2 separate regions of the Homo sapiens genome follow, and region 2 is linked to region 1. Evidence: fine-mapped expression QTL. Tissue or cell type: breast. Region 1 holds a variant in brackets; the other region holds the start of a gene. All regions are shown on one strand. Distances are from middle to middle. Region 1 has its middle 23 kb from the start of LINC00910. Region 2 holds the start of LINC00910 (long intergenic non-protein coding RNA 910).

Region 1 (4,233 bases):
ACCCAGTCTCCTCCCTCTCAAGCCATTTTCCAACCTGCCTGGGAGCCACTCTGATCTCCCAGAACACCTCATTTTGTGAATTATAAACCTTTTCACACCTTCTCGGTCCCTGTGTGATGTCACCAGTCTCGATTTCCAAAATAAATTTGGGGTCAGTGGTGGGGCTGGGGTCCATCTAGTTCTGCAGAGTGGGAACAGCACAGAAGCTACCGGACTTGCTGTGCGCATAGTCCAATTTGGGTGCAAAAGCCTCCCCACTGGACTGGGTGGCCTCTTATCAGTGACAAAACCAAGGGATTTGCTAGTCCCTCATTTACACACTGGTTACTGAGTGCCTCCCGTTGAGTTGAACACTTTTACTTCCGGGGAAAATTCGTTGTTCCAGACCAAGTTGACTACTGTCTTCACTGGACATTCTAAGAGGTGCTTTTGGTCCCAGGGAAATACCCCGGAAGCTGTGAAGTACAACAGCCTTAGGCCCTGTCCCAAATATTCTAATTTAATGGCTGTACGGTGGGGCTAGGACCTCAGGATGATTCACTCCACCGAGGTATCCGGTCGTCCTGAAGTATAGCCAAGGTTGAGAAGCACCGATAGACACGGAAGAATTTTCACTCCCCTTCAGCAAAGACCTTTGTAGGTATGACCTCCTTTGGCTGTCATTGTTCAGAATGGTGGGGGGTCTGGCAAGAGCGAGTCTTAGGGCTGAGACTAAACCCAATTTATAGGATTTAAGTCCTCTAGATGGGAGGTGGGACAACTGGGACTGCTCACTTGTTCACATGTACATCGGCCTGGTGTATTTCCACCAGAAACTGTTCCTCATTATACTGTCTGCCTGGGCCGATCCCTCCTGTCATAAGTTGACACAAGTAAATTGCAAAGTCCTAATCACCTAATTTTGGTGGAGTCTTTAGGTTTTTCCAAATATATCACCTTCAAACGAGGATAATTTGACTTCTTCCTGTCCTTTTTTTTCTTCTTCTTTTTCTTTTCTTTTTTTTTTTTTTAAGACAAAGTCTCACTCTGTCACCCAGTCTGGAGTGCAATGGCACGATCTCGGCTTACTGCACCCTCTGTCTTCCGGGTTTAAGTGATTCTCAGATCTCAGCCTACTGAGTAGCCGGGACTACAGGTGTGTGCCACCATGCCCAGCTAATTTTTTTATTTTTGTAAAGGCAAAATTTCACCATGTGGCCTAGGTTGGTCTTGAACCACTGGACCCAAGCAATCCTCCTGCCTCTGCCTCCCAAAGTGCCAGGATTACAGGTGTGAGCCACTGCGTCCAGCAAGAATAATTTCAATCTCTGGTAAATGCACCTGATAGAACTGTGAATTTCCAACTTCTTTGTCTTTTCTTTTCTCTTTTCCTTTCCCTCTCTCTCTCTCTTTCTCTCTTTCTTTCTTTCGTTTCTCTCTTGTTGCCCAGGCTGGAGTGCAGTGGGGATCTTGGCTCCCCATAGCCGGTGCCTCCCGGATTCAAACAATTCTCCTGCCTCAGGCTCCTGGAGTAGCTGGGATTACAGGCACAGGCCACCATGCTTGGCTAATTTTGTAGTTTTTGTAGAGACGGGGTTTCTCCATGTTGGTCAGGCTGGTCTCGAACTCCCAACCTCAGGTGATCTGCCTGTCTCGGCCTCCCAAAGTGCTGGGATTACAGGTGTGAGCCACCGCGCCTGGCCGTTTTCTCTAGTTTCTTTAAATTTCCTCAAAATGGCTATTTTGAATTCTCTGTCTGAAATGTCACGTCTCAGTTCCTCTGGAATTGAACAAATGTGGTTTGGTGAGACCATGTTTTCTTGGATGATCTTGATGTTTGTGGATGTTTGTTTTGTCTGCGTATGGAAGAATTAGGTATTTACTGTATTTTTCACAGTCTGGGCTTGTTTCTGTGTGTCTTTCTTGGGAAGGCTTTCTGGGTATTCCAGGATATGTGTGCCCCAAGTCCAATCATGCTGTGATTCTTACAGACTTGTAGAGGTACTACCCTGGTGGTTATTGGGGGAAATTCAGCCAG[C/A]TATCAGGCAAAATTCACCCCTGATATTTTACGTAGTTCTTTTCTATTTTCCTGAAGTGTCGGCCAGTCTGAGAAATAAAGGGACAGAGTACAAAAGAGATAAATTTTAAAGCTGGGTGTCTGGGGGAGACATCACATGTTGGCAGGTTCCGTGATGCCCCCTGAGCCATAAAACCAGCAAGTTTTTATTAGTGATTTTCAAAAGGGGAGGGAGTGTACGAACAGGGTGTGGGTCACAGAGATCATGTGCTTCACAAGGTAATAGAATATCACAAGGCAAATGGAGGCAGGGCAAGATCACAGGACCACAGGACTGGGGCAAAATTAAAATTGCTAAGGAAGTTTCAGGCACACATTGTCATTGATAACATCTTATCAGGAGACAGGGTTTGAGAGCAGACAACTGGTCTGACCAAAATTTATTCGGCGGGAATTTCCTCGTCCTAATAAGCCTGGGAGCGCTATGGGAGACTGGGGCTTATTTCATCCCTACAGCTTCGACCATAAAAGATGGCCGCCCCCCGAAGCAGCCATTTTAGAGGCCTACCCTCAGGGACGCATTCTCTTTCTCAGGGATGTTCCTTGCTGAGAAAAAGAATTCAGCAATATTTTCCCATTTGCTTTTGAAAGAAGAGAAATATGGCTCTGTTCTGCCCAGCTCACCGGTGGTCAGAGTTTAAGGTTATCTCTCTTGTTCCCTGAACATTGCTGTTATCCTGTTCTTTTTTCAAGGCGCCCAGAATTCATGTTGTTCAAATACACATGCTCTACAATTTGTGCAATTTACACAATCATCACAGGGTCCTGAGGTGACATACATCCTCCTCAGCTTACGAAGATGACGGGATTAAGAGATTAAAGTAAAGACAGGCATAGGAAATCACAAGGGTATTGACTGGGGAAGTGATAAGCGTCCATGAAATCTTCACAATTTATGTTCAGAGATTGCAGTAAAGACAGGCGTAAGAAATTATAAAAGTATTAATTTGGGGAACTAATAAATGTCCATGAAATCTTCACAATTTATATTCTTCTGCCATGGCTTCAGCCGGTCCCTCCATTCAGGGTCCCCAGCTTCCCGCAACAGTGGTCTTGGATGAGATCTGAAAGAATCCTCTGGATTACCAGGCAGAGACTCTTGTTCTTTTCCCTTACTTTCTCCTAAATAAATGGAGTCTCTCTCTGTGCTGAGATGCCTAAGCAACCCTGTGCTGGTTCAGACCCAAACCCAGCACAGCACCAGGTCTCACTCAAAGGCCTGCTAGATCCACTACCTGCTACCACCTATGCCCCCTCAAAGCAGTAGAGCTCTAGGATCAGGTGGCCAAGCCAGCCAGGATTATGTCCCTCCCTTTAGGGCAGTGAGCTCCCTCAAGCCCTGGGTGGGTGCTGGAATGCTGTCTAGGAGCCAAGGTTTGGAGTCAAGACCTTAGAAATGTAACTGATGTTTTATTCTACTGCAGTTAAGCTCCTACGGAAACCACAAGAAAAAAGTTCTCCCCACTCTTGGCTAACTGCAAGATGCCTCCGATGAGGCCTCCTACCCAAACCTTTCTTATTCGCAGGGACCAGGCTTTCTTACTCGCAGGGACCAGGCTTCAGCTCCCTGACTAAGAAGTCAAATAAAGGTCGGGCGCGGTGGCTCAGGCCTGTAACCCTAGCATTTTGGGAGGCCAAGGCGGGCGGATCACTTGAGTTCAGGAGACAAACCTGGCCGACATGGTGAAACTCCCTCTCTCCTAAAAATACAAAAATTAGCCAGCCATGGTAGCGAACGCCTGTAGTCCCAGCTACTCGGGAGGCTGGGGCGGGAGGATCGCTTGAATCCGAGAGGCAGAGGTTGCAGTGAGCCGACATGAGGCCACTTCACTCCAGCCTAGGCAACAGAGTGAGACTCGGTATCAAAAAAAACAAAAAAGAAAAAATGTGAGCAGTTGGGAAGCAATAATATGAAAAATGAGAGCAAAAGTAACTGCAACATTGGGGAAGACTAAACAACGTCGCTTCTGGCGTTGGCTTATGGATGACCACCCTGCTTTCTTCACGTTTTAACTGTCTGGAGTCCAGAAATTAGCAATGCACCTCCTTGGCATATCAGGATGCCAACAAGCACCCTTGTCCCCAGTTTCAGGACTCGGCGGCGTACTTTCCCAATACGCATTCCCTTATTCTCAATCCGGTTAGAAGCAAAGAAGTAATACCACCCACCAATACTT
Region 2 (4,518 bases), 23 kb after region 1:
ACACCTGTAATCCCAGCAATCTGGGAGGCCCAGGCAGGTGGATCACCTGAGGTCAGGAGTTCGAGACCAGCCTGGTCAACATGGTGAAACCCCGTTTCTACTAAAAATACAAAAATTAGCTGGGCATGGTGGCGGGTGCCTGTAATCCCAGATACTCGGGAGGCTGAGGCAGGAGCATTGCCTGAACTCGGGAGGCAGAGGTTGCAGTGAGCCGAGATGGTGCCGTTGCACTCCAGCCTGGGTACCAAGAGCTAAACTCCATCTCAAAAACAAAAAACAAACAAACAAACAGAGTAAGTTGAAGTCCAGCCTGGGCAACACACCACTGGAATCCATCCCTTTGAAAGGTCATCACCCCTCCACAGCCAAGCTGAGATTTAAAGCCCTCCAAGTAAAGTCGAACATGTTCCCTACTTGGAAATGAATATTCTTGTTTTGGGTCCTAGGATACTCTCCATAAATCATGAACCTTATGATACTTAAAGGAGTAAGAAAACCTACCAACTATCCTAAACTACCCGGCGCAGTCTTTTCTTTCTAACCTTGCAAACAGGTTGTATCCCAGGAGAGGGAGCCCCATTCCTGGAGGTACTGCAATACCAGGTCGACGCGTGGAGTGGACAGAGCAAGCTCCTATTTCATCTCCCTGCTCCAAAAATCTATCTAATATAATTGTTCTCTGATAGAGGACGTATCAGATATTAAACTGATAAGAACAGATACTACACTTGATCTTAGCCAAAAGGACGAGAAGAGATGTCGTCGCCTTCCTCCCTGCCATCACCGTCCCACTCTCATCTACATTCAAGACGCGGTGAGAGCCCCAGCCTCGCTCCTTGCCTCATTCACTTTGTCTTGTCCACACCAATATTGACGCCATTACACACTCGGGCTGATTTCTTATTCTCCACGTTTTAAAAGAAAAATCTGCCGGGCGCAGTGGCTCACGCCAGTAATCCTAACACTTTGGGAGGCCGAGGCGGGTGGATCACAAGGTCAGGAGATCAAGACCATTCTGGCAAACACGGAGAAATCCCGTCTCGACTCAGGAGCTCGAGACCAGCCTGGGGAACACGGTGAAACCCCATCTCTACTAAAAATACAAAAAAATTAGCCGGGCGTGCCGGGCGCGGTGACTCACGCCTGTAATCCCAGCACTTTAGGAGGCCGAGGCAGGTGGATCACGAGGTCAGGAGATCGAGACCATTCTGGATAACACGGAGAAACCCCGTCTCTATTAAAAATACAAAAATTAGCCGGGCGTGGTGGCACGTGCCTGTAGTCCCAGCTACTTGGGAGGCTGATGCAGGAGAATCTCTTGAACCTGGGAGTCCGAGGTTGCAGTGAGCCAAGATTGCGCTACTACACTCCAGCCTGGGCGACAGAGTGAGACTCCATCTAAAAAAAAAACAAAAACAAAAAAACAAAAATTAGTCAGGCGTGGTGTCGCGCGCCTGTAATCCCAGCTACTAGGGAGGCTGGGCAGTAGAATCACTTGAACCCGGGAGGCGGAGGTTGCAGTGAACCGAGATCGCGCCACTGCACTCCAGCTTGGGCGACAGAGCGAGACTCTGTCTCAAAACAACAACAAAACAACAACAACAACACAAAAACCAAGAGAAATCTTACACCAGTTCTAGTTCCGGGGTTTCCGGGCTTTCATTTCGAATTTGCATGCCCTGCCCTTTCCCAGGAGGCGTGGCCACCGCGGTTGACTCCACCCCCGGGCCCGCCTCCAGCTAAGGAGCCGCGGCTGGGCTAGGGGCGACTTCCTTGTTTGTATGAGCGAAAAGACTGAACCAAAAGAGACAGGGGGTGAAAACAAGATAGGTCTGTGGAAGAGACCTGTAGGCGGAGAGCGGTCCCTGTTTTCCTGGAGAAAGACGAGTCGCAAGATATCATCACCAGGGGAAACCAGGCTGAGCTGGATCTTTACGTCGTCACCAGTGGGCGGGGAGACCAGCCTTGTACCCACTGGACAGCGGGCCCATTCCGAGTCAGGGAAGCAGAAGGCCTGGAGGAGCTTCGGGGAGCAGGGGCTGGAGTTCCTCTGCCAGGCAGGAGGCTGACACCAGACACCGGGCAGAGGGAGGCGGCGCATGGACGGCGAGGGCCCAGCAAGGATTCTCCCCAGCCCCTGTGCCTGCGTCTCCTGCGGCTTCTGTGCGCGGACCGTGTCCTGTGCTGTGTAGGGAAAGCTGCTTCTCTGCTTGGGACGTGGATTCCTTTACCCTCCTCCTCGCCTGACTACTTCTGACGCGGGTCGTCAGGACTCCGCTTGGGTGTCACCCGTCCAGGAAGCCTCCCTTAATTAAGGGCCCTCGGCACCCACCCCATATGTGATTAGCAGCCCTCCTGTGTATTTCATCGCACCTCGTTGTTTATATCAACTACTCCACTCACCACCCTTCTGGGCAGTCCTTTATCTCCCCCTCTGAAATCCGATCGCTGAGGGCTGGGACCCTCATCAGTACTTATCCCCGTTTCTCTGCGCTAGTCTAATTAGTGCCTGGCAAGTTGAAGGCGCTCAGTAAACGTTTGTGGAGCGAAGAAACGACGGATAGGGCGTAATGAGCACGACACACGCAATCAGAGAGGACGCAGTTAGGAGGCTATTGGCCCGGGGCAGGCGTGAAGGGGGAAGATCGGGCTCGGGGTGGGAGGACACCAGAGGGCGGGGTGACTGTCGGGGTGCTCTGGAGGAAGATGGGCGTCAAGGCCCCCAGCAAGGTTGGGATAAATTTTCTCTCTGAGGCACAGACTGCCGCCTGTAGCGTCAGCATTTACCATTCCCGTCCTCCTTCCTAACACAACAGTTGAGATGAGAGTTTATGGCTCTTTTATTTGATTTCAGAAAAGCAAGAAGGTATCATAGATCCGATAGTGACACTCAGTCAGTCATGCTCCCCCTGCAGGATGGAAAGCCGGATGGCAGGGATTGCCTGGTGAACAACCAGGTCAAAAAATATAAACTGTGCCTTTCCCAATGCCAGCCTCGGGTCCGAGGGCTCTACGTGCATTATCTCTTTTAGTTCACTCGACAGCCCTAAGAGATGGGCGTTATTATTAGCCACGGCCAGGATTAGGGTGAGGTCATTCCTCTAGGTTCGAATTTCAGGGGGTGATCCTCCAGAACCCTTCAGTAATCAAAATAAATAATAGTTCAATGCAATATATCTTATCTCGATTATAAGATAATCAAGCCATTTATCTGGATTGCTGAGTCTTTTGGTGCCCCCTTATTTTTTTTTTTAACCTCTCAGCAAGTGTTTCCCTCATTTCACTTTACCCCAGTCTCCACCGAGTCATTGTCATCTCCATTCTATTACCCTGTGAAGTGCAATATGGCAGCCACCCACCTCGGCCTCCCAAAGTGCTGAGATTATAGGCGTGAGCCACTGCGCCTGGCCTGTCTGTCTGTCTGTCTATCTATCTATCTATCTATCTATCTATCTGTTCTTTTTTCTGAGACGGAGTCTCGCACTGTCGCCCGGGCTGGAGTGCAGTGGCGCTATCTCAGCTCACTGCAACCTCCGCCTCCCGTGTTTAAGCGACTCTCCTGCGTCAGCCTCCCAAGTAGCTGGGACTACAGGTGCGTGCCACCACACCGGACTGATTTTTTGTATTTTTAGTAGAGACGGGGTTTCACCGTGTTAGCCAGGATGGTCTCCATCTCCTAACCTCGTGATCCGCGTGCCTCGGCCTCCCAAAGTGCTGGGATTACAGGCATGATCCACCGCGCCTGGCCATATCTATCTATATTTTGAGACAAGGTTTCCCTCTGTTGTCCAGGCTGGAGTGCAGTGTTACAATCACGGTTCACTCACCATACACCAAGATAAATGCCAAGTGGGCCAAAGATTTCAAAGTGAAAAAAATGGAACTATAAAAGTATATAAGGGCCAAGGCCAGGCGCGGTGGCTCACGCCTGTAATCCCAGCACTTTGGAAGGCCGAGGAGGGCAGATTACGACGTCAGGAGTCAGAGACCAGCCTGGCCAATGTAGTGAAACCCCATCTCTACTAAAAATAAAATTAGCTGGGTGTGATGGCACGCACTCGTAGTTCCAGCTACTCAGGGGGCTGAGGCGGGAGAATCGCTTGAACTCGGAGGTGGAGGTTGCAGTGAGCCAAGACCATGCCACTGCCCTCCAGCCTGGGTGACAGAGTGCGACTCTGTCTCAAAAAAAAAAAAAAGTATATGAGGGCCAAGCACGGTGGTTCATGCCTGTAATTCCAGCACTTTGGGAGGCCAAGGTGGGCAGATTGCTTGAGCCCAAGAGTTTGAGACCAGCCTGGGCAATATAGCAAGACCTCGTCTCTACAAATAATTTTTAAAAATAAAAATAAAAATTGTAAAAAAAAAGACCAAAAAAAAAAGTATAGAGGACACCAGGGGTGGTGGCTCATGCCTGTAATCCCAACACTTTGGGAGGGCAAGGTGGGAAGATCACTTGAGCCCAGCAATTCAAGACCAGCCTGAACAACACAGGGATACCCTGTCTCTACAAAATACTAA

Evidence for each region.
Region 2: LINC00910 starts here. The variant in region 1 is fine-mapped to the expression of LINC00910 in breast (GTEx, PIP 0.91).

What each region holds. Positions count from the first base shown.
Region 1 is chr17:43,363,577-43,367,809 of GRCh38, forward strand. No RefSeq gene overlaps it. Among named protein-coding and RNA genes, the nearest start is that of LINC00910, 23 kb to the right of the region's middle. RefSeq lists a silencer at 4,025-4,233. The variant C/A (reference allele first, on the strand shown) is at 2,018.
Region 2 is chr17:43,386,660-43,391,177 of GRCh38, forward strand. It overlaps LINC00910 (long intergenic non-protein coding RNA 910), which reads right to left and starts at 2,239. Exons shown (of 6, transcript NR_027412.1): 1 at 1,630-2,239. It also overlaps the pseudogene RNU2-4P. RefSeq lists enhancers at 290-805, 806-1,321, 1,612-2,365, 1,819-2,048, 2,366-3,119 and a silencer at 1,962-2,256.